Linked DNA regions of Homo sapiens: region 1 is linked to region 2. The links come from fine-mapping of genetic effects on gene expression. A gene starts in region 2. The other region holds a variant in brackets. All regions are shown on one strand. Distances are from middle to middle.

Evidence for each region. PIP is the estimated chance that this variant, and not a neighbour inherited with it, causes the effect.
Region 1: its variant is the best candidate, but not a certain one, in a credible set for the expression of DNMT1 in whole blood (INTERVAL, PIP 0.63).

Annotation. Positions count from the first base shown.
Region 1 is chr19:10,169,410-10,173,792 of GRCh38, forward strand. DNMT1 (DNA methyltransferase 1) reads right to left here. Exons shown (of 41, transcript NM_001130823.3): 9 at 3,681-3,765. Among named protein-coding and RNA genes, the nearest start is that of DNMT1, 23 kb to the right of the region's middle. The variant C/CAAAT (reference allele first, on the strand shown) is at 2,395.
Region 2 is chr19:10,192,687-10,197,069 of GRCh38, forward strand. DNMT1 (DNA methyltransferase 1) reads right to left here and starts at 2,267. Exons shown (of 41, transcript NM_001130823.3): 1 at 2,134-2,267. The coding sequence starts at 2,213. RefSeq lists a silencer at 1,971-2,210 and an enhancer at 2,471-2,700.

The DNA of each region.
Region 1 (4,383 bases), 23 kb before region 2:
AGCCGGGCGTGTTGGCGGGCGCCTGCAGTCCCAGCTACTGGGGAGGTGGAGGCAGGAGAATGGCGTGAACTTGGGAGGCAGAGCTTGCAGTGAACCGAGATCGTGCCACTGCACTCCAGCCTGGGCGACAAGAGCGAGATTCCGTCTCAAAAAATAAATAAGTAAATAAATAAATAACCCCGTCTCTACTAAAAATACAAAAAAAAATTAGCCTGGCGTGGTAGCAGGTGCCTGTAGTCCCAGTTACTCGGGAGGCTGAGGCAGGAGAATGGCGTGAACCTGGGAAGCGGAGCTTGAAGTGAGCGGAGATCGCACCACTGCACTCCAGCCTGGGCGACAGAGTGAGACTCCGTCTCAAATAAAAATAAAAAAAACGCTTAGCAAATCTTCCTACTACAAGAAGAAATCCTGAGAGTATGCTTACAGGTGAGGGATTTCGATCTTGCCCCAGGTTCCTTCTTTGGAAGGTGGTGGTTGAACTAGCCCGTTAGGACTGCTTGTTCTGAAACAAATTCGAGGTATGCACTGACTGCAACTGCTGTCTAATTTAACTAGGATCAGGGTAGGAAAGGTGATCAATGAAAGACCAGCCTCGGCCGGGCGTGGTGTTTCACCCCTGTAATCCTGGACTTTGGGAGGCTGAGGTGGGTGGATCACCTGAGGTCAGGAGTTCCAGACCAACCTGGCCAACACGGCAAAACCCTGTCTCTACTAAAAATACAAAAATTAGGCGGACGGGGTGGCGGGCGCCTATAATCCCAGCTACTGGAGAGGCTGAGGCAGGAGAATCGCTGGAACCCAGGGGGTGGAGGTTGTAGTGAGCTAAAATTGCGCCACTTCACTCCAGCCTGAGCGAAAGAGCAAAATTCCATCTCAATTAAAAAAAAAGAAAAAAAGCAAGAAAGACCAACCTCAAGTACTGAATGGTTCAAAAATTATTGTACAGCGGCCGGATGCAGTGGCTCACGCCTGTAATCCCAGCACTTTGGGAGGCCGAGGCGGGTGGATCACCTGGGGTCAGGAGTTCGAGACCAGCCTAGCCAACATGGTGAACCCCTGTCTCTACTAAAAGTACAAAAAGTTAATTAGCTGGGCGTGGTAGCGGAAGCCTGTAATCCCAGCTACTCGGGAGGCTAAGGCAGGAGAATTTGTTTGAACGCAGGAGACAGAGGTTGCAGTGAGCCGAGATCACACCACTGCACTGCAGCCTGGGCAAGTAGAACAAAACTCCGTCTCAAAAAACAAAAAAAATTACTGTACATTTTAGTTGATTCCCCAATGGACAGCCATCCTTTACTAAGCTCCCAAGTAAGGCACTCGTCACCTACCTAAGTTGGTAAGAAACTTCTAGTCATCTTGGTTTTTTTTTGTTTGTTTGTTTTGTTTGTTTGTTTGTTTGTTTTAAGACCAGTCTCACTTTATCATCCAGGCTGGATTGCAGTGGGACAATCATGGCTCACTGTATCCTCAGCCTCCTGAGCTCAAGTGATCTTCCTGCCTCAGCCTCCTGAGAAGCTGGAACTACAGGCACACTGCCTGTTGTAAGCTCCACCACATCCAGCTGATTTTTGTATTTTTTGCAGAGACGGGGTCTCACTACATTGCCCAGGCTGGCCCTGAACTCCTGAGCTCAAGCGATCCACCCACCTCGGCCTCCCAAAATGCTAGAATTACAGGCATGAGCCACCACACCCGGCCCTCAGTCATCTTATTAAAAAACAAAACAAACAGAAAAAAAAACAGGACCCAGCATCTGTATTGCATAGAACCTTAGACTCAGATTTTACAAAGAAGATGAGGGACTGGGGAAAGAGCTGGTCTGACTTCAGAGAGGAGAATACAACTTTATGTCTGGATGATGCTAAAGAATTTTAGCACCTCCTACATCTGAAAATTAGATCTTCACCAAGATCTCGTCAGCCAGAGAAGGTGGCTGAGGTGACAGACTGAAACTGACTAGTTGATTTAAGTAGCATAGGTTGGCCGGTGTGGTGGCTCGTGCCTGTAATCCCAGCACTTTGATGGCTGAGGCAGGTGGACCGTTCGAGGTCAGCAGTTTGAGACCAGCCTGGCCAACATGGTGAAACCCCGTCTCTACTAAAAACACAAAAATTGGCTAGGCGCGGTGGTTCACGCCTGTAATCCCAGCACTTTGGGAGGCCGAGATGGGAGGATCACGAGGTCAGGAGATCAAGACCATCCTGGCTAACGTGGTGAAACCCCTTCTCTACTAAAAATACAAAAAATTAGCCGGGCATGGTGGCAGGCGCCTGTGGTCCCAGCTACTCGGGAGGCTGAGGCAGGAGAATGGTGTGAACCCAGGAGGTGGAGCTTGCAGTGAGCGGAGATCAAGCCACTGCACTTCAGCCTGGGCGACAGAGCGAGACTCCGTCT[C/CAAAT]AAATAAATAAATAAATAAATAAATAAATAAATAAATAAATAAAAACACAAAAATTAGCCAGGTGTGGTGGCAGGCGCCTGTAGCCCCAGCTAGTTGGGAGGCTGGGACATGAGAATTACTTGAACCTGGGAGGCGGAGGTTGCAATGAGCCAAGATCGCACCTCTGCACTCCAGCCTGGGTGATAGAGCGGGAGACTGTCTCAAAAAAAAAAAATTAAATTAAATTAAATAAATACCACAAATAAGTAGCAAAGATCCTCGCTATGACAACCTCATAACCCACCTTCCATGTAGAGAACTACAAAAAAATAAGTTTGAAAAGTATTTTAGGCCGGGTGTGGTGGCTCACGCCTATAATCCCAGCACTTTGGGAGGCCAAGGCAGGTGGATCACCTGAGATTGGGAGTTCAAGACCAGCCTGATCAACATGGAGAAACCCCATCTTTACTAAAAATACAAAATTATCTGGCTGTGGTGGCAGGCACCTGTAATCCCAGCTACTCAGGAGGCTGAGGCACAAGAACCCGGGAGGCAGAGGTTGCGGTGAGACAAGATCACACCACTGCATTCCAGCCTGGGCAACAGAGCAAGACTCCATCTCAAAAAAAAAAAAAAAAAAAGTTTTAGCACCTCGTACGTCTGAAAATTAGATCTTCACAAAGATCTCATCAGCCAGAGAAGCAAGAAGGCGAGGTGACAAACTGAAGCTCTGTGACTAGTTGATTAAGTGGCATAGGTTGGCCGGTGTGGTGGCTCATGCCTGTAATCCTAGCACTTTGGTGGCTGAGGCAGGTGGATCACTCGAGGTCAGGAGTTCAAGATCAGCCTGGCCAACACAGTGAAACCCCATCTCCACTAAAATTAGCCGAGTATGGCGGCGGGCGCCTGTAGTCCCAGTGACTCAAGAGGCTGGGACATGAGAATCACTTGAACCTGGGAGGCAGAGGTTGCAACGAGCCGAGATCGCACCTCTGTACTCATTCCAGCCTGGGTGACAGAGTGGGAGACTGTCTCAAAAATAAATAAATAAATAAAATAAAATAAAATATCACAAATAAGTAGCAAGGGTCCTCACTATCACAATCTCATAACCCACCTTTCATGTAGAGACCACGAGAAAACAAGTTTGAAAGGTGTTTAGCCAAAGTCAAAGGCATTTCGATCACTAGCAAAACCCATCTTGTTCTTCCACGTTCCCCACCCCCTGTCCCCACGTCCTGGAAGGAAATTGGGACCATATAGGATTAAGGGAGAATTAACAAACTTAGAGGTGATAGAGCTTTACTTTTTCATCTCTTTCTTCTTCCTTTTCAGTGCGCGTTCCTGATTTTGCTCTTTCAGGTTCTTCTGCAGGAAGCGGTCTAGCAACTCTGTCAAGCAAAATAACACAGACCCCAAGTGTGAGTGCCAGGAGCTTCCCCAAAGAAGCAGTTTTCATAAAGCTCCTCTTTCCCCCAAAAGCAATCTTCATTATCTCAGGAGCCCTGACAGACACATACTCATTTAACATTTAGTATTTGATATGACTTTTACACCTGGTTCGAATGCCAGCTGCCCTCGATTCATTCCTTCCAAGAAAACAGGAGAATTCTACTTGAATCTAAACGCTAATGATCTGACCCCAAATTCAGATACTTCATAACGATATGGTTGCCATGGAAACACACGATAAAGTTCTTCTTTTTAAACTTTTTTTTTTTTTTTTGAGATGGAGTCTTGCTCTGTCACTCAGGCTGGAGTGCAGTGGAATGATCTCAGATCACTGCAGCCTCTACCTCCTGGGTTCAAGCAATCCTTCTGACTCAGCCTCCTGAGTAGCTGGGATTAAAGGCACATTCCACCACGCCCAGCTAAGTTTTGAATTTTTAGTAGAGACGGGGTTTCGCCATGTTGGTCAGGCTGGTCTTGAACTCCTGACCTCAAGTGATTCGCCCATCTTGGCCTCCCAAAGTGCTGAGATTACAGGCATGAGTCACCGTGCCCGGCCT
Region 2 (4,383 bases):
TTCACTTCCATTCCATTTTAAATCAAGTTTTATTTTGGGAGAATACTGGCACAGATGATTCAAGAAGATATATACCCACTAACTGGTTAAGAAGTGGTTTGACTATAATCCCAGCACTTTGGGAGGCTGAGGCAGGTGGATCACGAGGTCAGGAGTTCGAGACCAGCCTGACCAACATGGAGAAACCCCGACTCCACTGAAAACACAAAAATTAGCCAGGCGTGGTGGTGTGCACCTGTAATCCCAGCTACTTCGGAGGCTGAGGCAGGAGAATCACTTGAACCCTGAAAGTGGAGGTTGCAGTGAGCCGAGATCACGCCACCGCATTCCAGCCTGGGTGAAAGAATGAGACTCCATCTCAAACAAACAAACAAAAAAAAGTAGTAGTTAAGGCATGATGGCTCATACTTGTAATCCTAACCTTTGGGACACAAAGGCAGGAGGACTGCTTGAGGGCAGGGGTTTAAGACCAGCCTGGGCAATATGGTGAAACCTCACGTATACAGAAACAAAAACTAAGAAAGTCATCTGGGCATGGTGGTGGGCGCCTGTGGTCCCAGCTACTCAGGAGGCTGAGGATCCCTTAAGCCCAGGAGTTCAAGGCTACAGTGAGTTATAATTGTGCCAGGGCACTCCAGCCTGGACAACAGAGTGAGACCCATCTCTAAAAATAAAAAGTGTTTCTTTTTTTGAGACAGGGTCTCACTCTGTCACCCAGGCTGGAGTGCAATAGCGCGATCTCAGCTCGCTACACACAGCCTCAACCTCTGGGGCTCAAGTGATACTCCCACCTTAGTCTGTTGAGTAGTTGGGACCACAGGCGCACGGCACTACTCCAGGCTAATTTTTGTATTTTTAGTAGACATGGGGTTTTGCCTTGTTGCCCAGGCTGGTCTCAAACTCCTGGCTCAAGAGATTCGTCCGCCACTGCCTCCCAAATTGCTGGGATTACAGGCATAAGCCACAGCACCCAGCCTTCAAAAAAAAAAAAAAAAAGAAAAGAAAAAAAGCGGGGGTTGAACCAAATATCCATCCCTCCCCAAAGACCCAAATCAGAACCGGACTGGCCCAACCAGGTCAGTTAACAAGCCTAAGGAAATAGAAAAATGGCAAAGAGTGCTTTCACAAATCCAGCTGGAAGTGTCCACGCCTGGTGAGGGTTCCTCTGACTCACGCACACCTCACTTGAACAAGTTTTCAGGAATGAACTGATGGCGTTCATGAACAAGGGGCTGGGACCAGTGCTCCCACTGATCCTTGTGCACGGAAGTTGGACAGAGGCATGAACTGCTAAAGCCAGGGCCTCCAACATTAGACACACACTAAAGAACACACCCATGAACACACACAAACACACACGAAAGTGTAGCCAGTTCTCATTAGCAAGACTTCCCTGATGCCCACGGCTCACAGGCACAGATTTACAGGAAAAGACCAACCATGCAGCCTTCACGCTTCCCGGGCCCTGCGCTGCAATGCACGGTTAAAGTTCCTGCCAAAACATGGACTTTCCCAAGGAGCAAGAACCACACAGTCCCAACTGACAGAATGAGTACCCCACGGAAGGCTGGGCTCTCGAACATGAGCCAGCCCAGCCCAGGCCCCGACGGGTGACATCCGTCTCTGGAGGCCGCCATCGAGATGCACAGCTTTGGGGGAAAGGCACTGAGGGACCCCCCACCACAGAAGCGCCCCCGGGGACCGGGCCGGACACCGGAAGTGGAGGCCGAAGTGCCGGTGCCCGAGGGGTGTCCGTTGGCCGCGGGCTGCCCACTTCCTGTGCGACCAAGCTGGAGTCAAGAGCCCGGCCCACCGCTGCTTGAAGAAGGGGACCCCGGAAACGAACCCAAAGCTTGCTGTATTTGGGGATCAAAAGAGAACCCCCACCCCGCCTAGTTTCTAGCCACCAGGGAGCTACGGGGGAATCCACGGTCCATTTTGGCGCCAAACAGCCCGGGCACGCGCGACCGGAAGTGCCACCCTGCCCGCGCCAACTGCCGCTGCGCGCCGCACCACCCCACGCATGCGCGCCCGTCTGTCAGCAGCGGCCACCGGCCACCCCGAGGGGAAGCGACCCCCCACCCAGCGCCCTGCCTGTCCCCCTGAGTCCGTGTTCCCCCCCATGGTACCTACCGCCTGCGGACATCGTCGGGCAGCGAGATGGCCGGGACGGCCAGTGTGGGCACCCGGGCTGGGGCGGTACGCGCCGGCATCTCGGAGGCTTCAGCAGACGCGGCGGCGGCAGCGCAGGCGCCCCGGCTTTTCGCGCGGAAACCGATGGGGAGGGGCGATGAGCGGAGGCGGCGTCTACCACCCCAGTCCGGGCGTGGGGGAGGAGGGGATGTACCAAACGGAGAGAGGCGATACCCTGTGCAGAAGGATGGAACGGAGCCGGCCATGCCCAGGGAACACGCATGCGCAAGGCGGGCACACACCCCCCCCACGCGGAGCAGTGGGCTCGTCCAAGCTCCACGGTTTGCTGGGAGGTGGGCACGGTGCCCGAGGCATTCATTCATTCATTCTTTCAGGTGTGATGGGGATAAAGCAGCGAGAAGCCCCCAAGGGTTTGTGAGAGCCCTTGAGTAAAGTCCTCAGTTCCAATCCAACCTCCATCTATTTGCTGGCTATACGACCTTAGGTGGGTCACTACGGCTCAGCCTCTGTGTCCTCATCTGTAAAACGGGGTAATTGCACCTACTCTAGAAAATCTTGAGTATACACAGAATTTGTAGCTAGTACCAAGAATCTCACAGTGTATAGAGGCCCATGCCACTTCTATACCCAGTGTGTGGGGGGTTTTTTGTTGCCTTTTTTAAGCACCACGTGGCTCACGCCTGTCATCCCAGCACTTTGGGAGGCCAGGGTGGGAGGATCGCTTGAGCCCAGGAGTTTTAGACCAGCCTAGGTAACATAGAGAAACTGCATCTCAAAAAAAAAAAAAAAGAAAGAAAGAAAGAAAGAAAAAAAGAAAAACAAAAATTAGCTAGTCGTTGTGGCATGTGCCCATAGTCCAAACTACTCCAGAGGTTGAGGCAGGAAGATCACTTGAACCGGAGAGGCAGAGGTTGCAGTGAGCCATGATTGTACCACTACATTCCAGCCTGGGAGACAGAGCAAGACCTTGTCTCAAAAAAATAAAAATAAAAAGTAAGAATAAATTAAGAAGCACCATGTCAGGCGCAGTGGCTCACGCCTGTAATCCCAGTGCTTTGAGAGGCCCAGGTGGGAGGATCGCTTGAGGTTAGGAGTTCAAGACCAGCCTGAGCAACATAGGGATACCCCATCTCTACAAAAAATACAAAGATTTGCTGGGCATGGTGACACACACCTGTAATCCTAGCTACTTGGGAGGCTGAGGTGGGAGGATGGCTTGAACCCTGGCAGTGTAGGCTGCAATGAGCCATGATTGGGCCACTGGACTCCTGCCTGGGCGACAGGGTAAGACCCTGCCTCACTCTGTCACCCCGGCTGGCGTGCAGTGGTGAGATCTTGGCTCACTGCAACCTCTGCCTCCCAGGTTCAAGCGATTCTCATGCCTCAGCCTCCCTAGTAGGCTGGGATTACAGGCGTACTCCACCACGCCTGGCTAATTTTTGTATCTTCGGTGGTAGAGACAGGGTTTCACCATGTTGGCCAGGCTAGTCTGGGACTCCTAGCCTCAAGCAGTCCACTTGCCTCAGCCTCCCAAAGTGCTGGGATTATAGGCCTAAGCCACCGTAACCAGCCAGAATTTTTTTTTTTTTTAAAGCACCAGAACATGGGGGAAAGATTGTGTCTTTAACAAATGGTGCTGAGAAAACTGTATAACCACATACAAAAGAATGAAGTTGGACCCTTACCTTACACCATATACAAAAACACAAAACTTATTAAAGATTAAACATAAGACCTGAAACTATAGTGCTCCTAGAAGAAAACATGGGGAAAAGCTTCATGACAATGGATTTGGCAATGATTTCTTGGATATGACAGCAAAACACAGGCAACAAGACAAAAGATAGACAAATGGGTTTGCAACAAACTTAAGGATAGCTATACAGCAAAAGAAATGACCAACAGTGAAAAGGCAACCTACAGAATGGGGAAAAAAAAAGTTTGCAAACTGTATTATCTGGTAAAGGGTTAATATCCGGAATATATGAAAAATTACAGCCAGGCATGGTGGTTCATGCTTGTGATCCCTGCACTTTGGGAGGCCCGGGTAGGCAGATCACTTGAGCCCGGTAGTTTTAGACCAGCCTGAGCAACATGGCAAAACCTCGTCTCTACCAAAAAAAGAAGAAAAAAATTATATAAAAAATAAATTACTACCCGTCAGGCTTGGTGGCTCACGCCTGTAATCCCAGCACTTTGAGAGGCCAAGGCGGGTGGATCACCTGAGGT